Regions from separate parts of the Homo sapiens genome. Here region 1 is linked to region 2. Evidence: fine-mapped expression QTL. Tissue or cell type: whole blood. Region 2 holds a variant in brackets; the other region holds the start of a gene. All regions are shown on one strand. Distances are between the middles of the regions.

Evidence for each region. PIP is the estimated chance that this variant, and not a neighbour inherited with it, causes the effect.
Region 1: GAPVD1 starts here. The variant in region 2 is fine-mapped to the expression of GAPVD1 in whole blood (TOPMed, PIP above 0.99).

The regions. Positions count from the first base shown.
Region 1 is chr9:125,259,343-125,263,583 of GRCh38, forward strand. GAPVD1 (GTPase activating protein and VPS9 domains 1) reads left to right here and starts at 2,484. Exons shown (of 28, transcript NM_001282680.3): 1 at 2,484-2,617. It also overlaps the pseudogene RPS10P17. RefSeq lists silencers at 2,381-2,562, 2,501-2,630.
Region 2 is chr9:125,350,521-125,354,761 of GRCh38, forward strand. It overlaps GAPVD1 (GTPase activating protein and VPS9 domains 1), which reads left to right. Exons shown (of 28, transcript NM_001282680.3): 23 at 193-352; 24 at 4,134-4,241. Among named protein-coding and RNA genes, the nearest start is that of GAPVD1, 91 kb to the left of the region's middle. RefSeq lists a silencer at 2,327-2,500. The variant C/T (reference allele first, on the strand shown) is at 1,799.

The DNA of each region.
Region 1 (4,241 bases), 91 kb before region 2:
TCCCTGAAGATTCTTTTGCAACTTTTGGGGCCTCTCCTTCCCTTCCTCCCTGGCCTGGGTGCTCCAGCCTACCCAGACGCAGTGTTCCAGAGCCCACTGTGAATGTGGTTTTGCTAAGGCTGAGTTCTTCCTTAGCAGTCCACGAATGCCATCTCTTGTCTTGAAATCCAGCCATCCAGTAACTCCTAACTGTCACCTCTTCCATAAGGTCATGAACCCTCAACTTGAAAAGGCCATTCTCTCTGAGAATCTCAGAATGCTTTGTACCTTGGCTTATTATGATGATCCTTAATCTGTGGCAGTTTCATCCTACCCTAGATTGTAAATTGTATCCTCTTGCTTATTTCTTTTCTTTTTTTTTTTTTCTTGAGACAGAGTCTCGCTCTGTCGCCCAGGCTGGAGTGCAGTGGCACGATCTCCACTCACTGCAAGCTCCGTCTCCCGGGTTCACGCCATTCTCCTGCCTCAGCCTCCCGTGTAGCTGGGACTACAGGCGCCTGCCACCATGCCCGGCTAATTTTTTGTATTTTTAGTAGAGACAGGTTTCTACCGTGTTAGCCAGGATGGTCTCGATCTCCTGACCTCATGATCCGCCCACCTCGGCCTCCCAAAGTGCTGGGATTACAGGCGTGAGCCACTGCGCCCGGCCTCCTCTTGCTTATTTCATGCCAGCGGTGCATTGAGTAATGTCTTGTAACAGAGCTGATTGAATTCCTGAATGAGTTGAATGGCAGCACGATAGCAATAACATCTGACCAGCCTACCATAGGTGGTTCTATTACTACCTATGTAGTCATAAAACAAGGCAATAAATATGAAGCAATTCTGTCAATGTTGTTGTTGCTGTTTTGTTTTGAGACAGGTTTCACTCTGCTGCCCAGGATGGAGTTCAGTGGCATGATCACAGCTCACTGCAGCCTTGACCTTTTTGGGCTTGGTGATCCTCCCACTTCAGCCTCCCTAGTAGCTGGGACTACAGGTGCAAGCCACCATGCCTCGCTGATTTTTGTATTTTTTGTAGAGTTGGGGTTTCACTATGTTGCTCAGGCTGGTCTTGAACTTCTGGGCTCAAGCAATCCTCCTGCCTTGGCCTCGCAAAGTGCTAGGATTATAGGCATATGCCACCATGCCCCTAAAGGTGACATCAAGAGAGGTGAGTAGATAGAAAGCAGTTTGGGAGTTGATTGACATTTGAAATAGCTGGGGAAATGATTATTACTTTTTTCCTTTTTTTGCCTGGAGACTCCCAGTATTGGAGGATATAATCATTGTTCTCAATTTTTTGAAGATCTGTCAAGTGGAAGACATTCTGTATTGCTCCAGGCAGCCTAACTACCAGCAATGGAAGGAAATAAAGGGAAACAGATTTCAGCTCAGCAGGAGGCAGAACTTTCTAACATTTAGAGCTGTCCAACAGTGGAGCAGGCTGCATTACTTGAGGGAGTGAGCTCCCTGAAATTTGAACTGTTGAACAGGAAGATGACCATCTGGCTGAATGTACAGGAGGGAATTCCTGCCTGGGCAACAGTTGCACTAGTGACCTTTAAGCAGGTATCTTCCAATTTTAAGGTTTCTAGACTGTTCAACTCAGCTAACTTGACCTCTGAATATATGAGTTATGGTGTTACAAAAATTATTAGACAGTTCATTTATTGACTTACCTAAAATAACTGCATGGTGAAGTTTATGATAAGCAAGATTTTAGAAACTGAGAAGTGGGAAGGCAGGTTTTACACTGAAAATCCAGATACCATCCAAACCAATTAATGGCACTTAGAACAAAAGGGAAGGGAGGGGCCGGCAGCGGTGGCTCACGCCTGTAATCCCAGCACTTTGGGAGGCCGAGGCGGGCGGATCACGAGGTCAGGAGATCGAGACCATCCTGGCTAACACGGTGAAACCTCGTCTCTACTAAAAATCAAAAAATTAGCCGGGCGTGGTGGCGGGCGCTTGTAGTTCCAGCTACTTGGGAGGCTGAGGCGGGAGAATGGCGTGAACCCGGGAGGCGGAGCTTGCAGTGAGCCGAGATTGAGCCACTGCACTCCAGCCTGGGCGACAGAGCCAGACTCCGTCTCGAAAAAAAAAAAAAAAGGGAAGGGAGGTTTGTAAGTAGTGTGTGCGTACGTGTGAGAGAGAAACAGAGAAGAGAGAGAGTCATTCATGCGAATAATGTGTCCTGGGCAACTGAGCGTTGTCACAGAAAGCATAAAACGCTCTACATTTTTGCTTTACACATACTTGCTCAGTCGGATTCTTCACGTCCAGCATTACTGCAGGCGGAAACCAGGGCCCAGGCCTGGTGAACAGCCTTCCGGAAGACGATTCCGGACCCGGACACCCACGACAGCCTCAGGGGGCAGCTGACCTAGGGCTGCCTAAGGCGGAAGTGGGAGCCCCTAGCCGCCCGGGCGGAACTACAGCTCCCAGAGGCCCCCGCGGCGCTGCGCACGCGCGCTGGCGTGGCGGCAGCGCCGCTGCAGGACGCAGGGAAGCCAACAGGCGAGTGGCGAAGGTGGCGGCAGCGGCGGCGGGGGCAGTCACCGGCTAGGGCGACGGCTCCGAGGCCGAGTGGCGGTCCGACAGAGTCCTCCGTGTCCTCCCCCGCATGACCCCCTTGGTGAGTACGCGTCCCGATTTAGTCCGCGGGCTGTGAGCGGCTCCCTGCCTCGCGGCCGGGTTGCTCCGGCCTAGGGCCGCAGCCTGTCTCTGACTGCCCGGCCGTCAGGTCCAACTGACCCCGGGGTCCTGGGCTCTTCCCGTCAGTGTCGGGCGAGGTGGGGGTCGGGGGACACTGGGTTAGACCCAGGGGAGAGATGTGGCGGCGCGCAGGAGCCAGGGCGGCCTGGGGCTGAGGAGAGGGAGAGACGCGTGGGGGATGGGATGGGAAGGGACAGGAGGACCGCGGGGCGGCCTCGGGTGGGGGCCAGAGACGAGAGGCCCGGCAGGTAGGGAACTGAGTATAGGAGGCGAGAACGAAATGGAATGTCTTCTGAGTGTCGCTGATAAAGATATCGTGCTGCAGGGAAGCTTGACAAGCTGGACACACGGGTCTGGGGGCAGCCCACCTAACACAGACACTCACTGTACTTGGCATCTTTCCACTTGCTGTCGGAGGTCTGAAAGTGAGGGAGCTGTTGGTTGTTTCCATCCCTTTTCTTTTAACTTCACCTTTTATTGACTGGCAAAATTGTAGTGAGTGCTGGCTAGGCAAACCACAGAAGTACACCCAGGGTTCTGTGTATAAATGTGCATAAAAACAGGGAGACATAGTGATAGGTTCAGATGAGAACTAGGTCAAAGGAGGAATCAGTGTTTTTATTTTTAAATTTATGACGAAAATCAGTTCTGAGCAGGACTTTGAACTAGAGAGGGGTTTTAAACTGGAGTTCATTGATGGATAGAATTAGAAGGGTCCTTTCACTAGAAGGAGGATAAAATGACATCATTATTTTTATTGACTGCTAACTGAAACTTATTATTTCCTTCAGTTACGAATGTGGACAACAAGCCAGAGTAGCATTAGCAGCGCCTATGACTTTGTGATCAATAAAAATTACGGATATTTTTGCATCATGTTTACAGTTGCAGATAGCTCAGAATATCATTTATGGTTAACACTTCTTTGAATTTCTGGTGTTACTAGACCCGCCGTTAGACATTGTTATTTAATGTGATAATAAGGCTGTACATATATTATGACCATATTAGTTTGTTGTTTTGCTAATATTTCCATATAATTGGTTTCCCTTGTAATCACATGTATTTAATTATGCACTTAAAAGAAATCTGAGAAAGGGACCATAGGCTTCACCAAACTGCCAATGAGGTCCGTGCACAAAAAGATTAAGAACTCCTGAAATAATTTGGGAGGCCGAGGCGGGCGGATCATTGAGGTCAAGAGATCGAGACCATCCTGGCCAACATGGTGAAACCCCATCTCTACTAAAAATACAAAAATTAGTTGGGTGTGGTGGCCCATGCCTGTAATCCCAGCTACTTGGGAGGCTGAGGCAAGAGAATCACTTGAGCCCGGGAGGTGGATATTGCAGTGAGCCAAGATCACGCCACTGCACTCCAGCCTGGCAACAGAGCGAGACTCCGTCTCAAAAAACAAAACAAAACAAAAAAACTCCTGAAATAGAAATAAGGTTTTTTGGATTTATAAGTCTACTTAGAAGAACTGTTGTTTTTTTTTTTTTGGTTGTAAGTTTATTCAATGCAAAAGAATCCTCTCCAATTTT
Region 2 (4,241 bases):
TTTACATTAGTATCACTTAAGGGCACTTTGATTACTGATGATTTATTAAAGTATTTTCTAATTGGGAGTGGCAATACAGCTTAGTTCTAATGATACGTGACAAAGCAGAATTGACGTCCCAAATGCTGAATTAGCTTATTTAAGCACATGGAAATTCTCAAGAATAACAGAATTCTTGTATCTTTTATTTAGACAATGAAATTGTATGCTTCTTAAAAGTTCAAATAGCTGAAGCAATTAATTTACAAGATAAGAATCTAATGGCTCAACTTCAAGAAACAATGCGCTGTGTGTGCCGTTTTGATAATAGGACTTGTAGGAAACTGCTGGCTTCGATTGCTGAGGACTACAGGTAATATACCCCACCTGTTCAGCTTTTAAACCTAGTTGTTAGCTGCAAGTGTTTTCTTTTTTATCCTTATTTCAGAAATGAATCTAGGCTTCCTACAAAGTGCTTGGCTGTATTTTCCTGGATGTAGATTTCTGTGTTAGTCTGTTCTCACGCTGCTGATAAAGATATACCCGAGACTAGCCAATTTACCAAAGAAGAGGTTTATTGGACTTACAGTTCCATGTGGCTGGGAGGCCTCACAATCATGGCGGAAGGTGAAAGGCACATCTCACATGGCAGCAGACAAGAGAAGAGAACTTGTTCAGGGAAACCCCCCTTTTTCAAAACCATCAGATCTTGTGAGACTTATTCACTATCACGAGAACAGCACAGGAAAGACCTGTCCCCATTGATTCAATTACCTCCCACTGGGTCCCTCCCACAACACATGGGAATTCAAGATGAGATTCGGGTGGGGACACAGCCAAACCATATCTTTCTGCCCCTTGCTTCTCCCAACTCATGTTCTCACATTTCAAAACCAATCATGCCTTCCCAACAGTTGCCCAAAGTCTTAACTCATTTTAGCATTAACTCAAAAGTCCACAGTCAAAAATTTCATCTGAGACAAGGCAAGTCCTTTCTGCCTATGAACCTGTAAAATCAAAATCAAGTTAGTTACTTCCTAGATACAATGGAGGTGCAGGCATTGGGTAAATACAGCCATTCCAAATGAGAAAAATTGGCAGAAACAAAGGGGCTACAGGCCCCATCCAAGTCTGAAATCCAGCAGGGCAGTCAAATCTTAAAGCTTCAAAATGAACTCCTTTGACTCCGTGGCTCACATCCAGGTCACGCTGATGCAAGAGGTGGGTTCCCATGGTCTTTCTTTTTTTTTTTTCCCCCGAGATGGAATTTCGCTCTTGTTGCCCAGGCTGGAGTGCAATGGTGCGATCTTGGCTCACTGCAACCTCTGCCTCCTGGGTTCAAGCAGTTCCCCTGCCTCAGCCTCCCAAGTAGCTGGGATTACAGGCATGCGCCACCACGCCTGGCTAATTTTGTATTTTTTAGTAGAGATGGGATGTCACCATATTAGCCAGGCTGGTCTTGAACTCCTGACCTCAAGTGATCCACCTAACTCAGCCTCCCAAAGTGCTGGGATTACAGGTGTCAGCCACCACACCCAGCCAGGGTTCCCATGGTCTTAGGCAGCTCCGCTCCTGTGGCTTTGCAGGGTATAGCCACTTTTCTGGCTGCTTTCATGGGCTGGTGTGGAGTTGCTGGCTTTTCTAGGTGCACGGTGCAAACTGTCAGTGGATCTGCCATTCTGAATTCTGGAAGACAGTGGCTCTCTTCTCACAGCTCTACTAGGCAGTGCCCCAGTAGGGACTCTTTGTGGGGGCTCCGATCCCACATTTCCTTTCCGCACTGCCCTTGCAGAGGTTCCCCATGAGGACCCTGCCCCTG[C/T]GGCAAACTTCTGCCTGGGCATCCAGGCGTTTCTATACATCTTTTGAAATCTAGGTGGAGGTTCCCAAACCCCATTCTTGACTTCTGTGCACCCACAGGCTCAACACCTCATGGAATCTGCCGAGGCTTGGGGCTTGCACTCTCTGAAGCCACAGCCTGAGCTCTGTGTTGGCCCCTTTCAGCCATGGCTAGAGCGGCCGGAGGGCAGGGCACCAAGTCCCTAGGCTGCACACAGCATGGGGACCCTGGGCCTGGCCCATGAAACCATTTTTCCTCCTAGGCCTCTGGGCCTGTGATGAGAGGGTCTGCCATGGAGACCTCTGACATGCCCTGGAGACATTTTCCCCATTGTCTTGGGAATTAATATTCAGCTCCTCATTACTTATGCAAATTTCTATAGCCAGCGTGAATTTCTTCTCAGAAAATGGGATTTTGTTTTCTATCGCATTGTCAGGCTGCAAAGTTTCTGAACGTTTATGCTCTGTTTCCCTTATAAAACTGTATGCTGGCCAGCATGGTAGCTCATGCCTGTAATCCTAGCACTTTGGGAGGCCAAGGCAGGTGGATCACCCGAGGTCAGGAGTTCAAGACCAGCCTGGCTGACATGGTGAAACTCTGTCTCTCCTAAAAATACAAAAAATTAGCTAGGTATGGTGGTGGGTTCCTGTAATCCTAGCTACTTGGGAGGCTGAGACAGGAGAATCGCTTGAACCTGGAAGCGGAGGTTACAGTGAGCTGAGATCACGCCACTGCACTCCAGGCTGGGCAACAAGAGTGAAACTCTGTCTCAAGAAAAAAAAAAAAATGAATACCTTTAATAGCACCCAAGTCACCTCTTGAATGCTTTGCTGCTTAGAAATTTCTTCTGCCAGATACTCTAAATCATCTTTCTCAAGTTCAAAGTTCCACAAATCTCTAGGGCAAGGGCAAAATGCCACCAGTGTCTTTGCTAAAACATAACAAGAGTCACCTTTGCACCAGTTCCCAACAAGTTCCTCATCTCCACCTCAGCCTGGACCTTATCGTTCATATCACTGTCAGCATTTTCGTCAAAGCCATTCAACAAATCTCTAGGAAGTTCCATACTTTCCCACATTTTCCTGTCTTCTTCTGAGCCCTCCAAACTGTTCCATCCTCTGCCTGTTACCCAGTTCCAAAGCTGCTTTCACATTTTCGGGTGTCTTTTTAGCAGTACCCCACTCTCGGTACCAATTTACTGTATTTGTCTGTTATTATGCTGCTGATAAAGACATACCTGAGACTGGGCAATTTAACAAAAGAAAGAGGTTTAATTGGACTTAACAGTTCCATGTGGCTGGGGAGGCCTCAAAATTATGGCGGAAAGTGAAAGGCACATTTCACATGGCAGCAGACAAGAGAAGAGAGCTTGTGCAGGGAAATTCCGTTTTTTAAAACAATCAGATCTCTTGAGACTTAGTATCACGAGAACAGCACAGGAAAGACATGCCTCCATGATTCAATTCCCTCCCACAACACATGGAAATTCAAGATGAGATGTGGGTGGGGAATACAGCCAAATCATATCAATTTCTAAGCAACATATTTGGATATTTACTCTGGAAATGTAGTTACAAATGAGCAGTTCCAAATAGAAGAGTGCAATTTACTTCAGCTTTGCACAAAAGCAGGTAAAGAGGTATGCCTATATTTTGAGGCTAGAACAACTAGAATATCATATTTCTTTTCTTAGTGGTGATAGGAAAGCCTACTTTCCTGGACCAGAGAAGCAGATGTAAGTAGCCTTAGGAATTGCTGTGCTTTTTCTGCTGCCAGTCCCCTGCTCATGATTATGGAGAAAAATGTAACTGAGATGCTTAGGTAGTGAGGAGGCTTCAAGGCTTAGGGAATGGGCACTCTAGTAAATGTGACATTTAGACTATAAGCAAGTAATTGGTGGGGGATGTTTGTGACCTAGTGACATATAACCTGTATTTGTTGTTATTGTTGGTCATCTGTAGCTGTCAATTTCCTATTAAGTATGAGGTCCTATAGCTCCAGTATAAAATACACCAAGTATGCAGAGGGGCTTAGTAACATTTAGTGAATTAGGTAACTAAGTCTTCAGCCCCATAGATCCTCCCAAACAAAATGCAAAATGGGTGTCTGTTCTGCAGCTGGCACCATGATCAGTCTCTACCATGTCTGCAGCCTGACATGCTACTTTGTATATGTGCTACTGAAGAGAGCACAGACATGCTACTTTGTAAAACCAGTCTGTGCAGTAATTTTTCTAAAGAAAAGTTAGGACCCTTATTCTTCAAAGAGAGTATGCACTGAATATATCTGATGTCATGCAAAGTATTTTTCCTTTTAGAAAAAGAGCCCCATATATTGCTTATCTCACTCGTTGTCGACAAGGACTACAGACCACACAGGCTCACCTGGAAAGGCTATTGCAAAGAGTTTTGCGGGACAAAGAAGT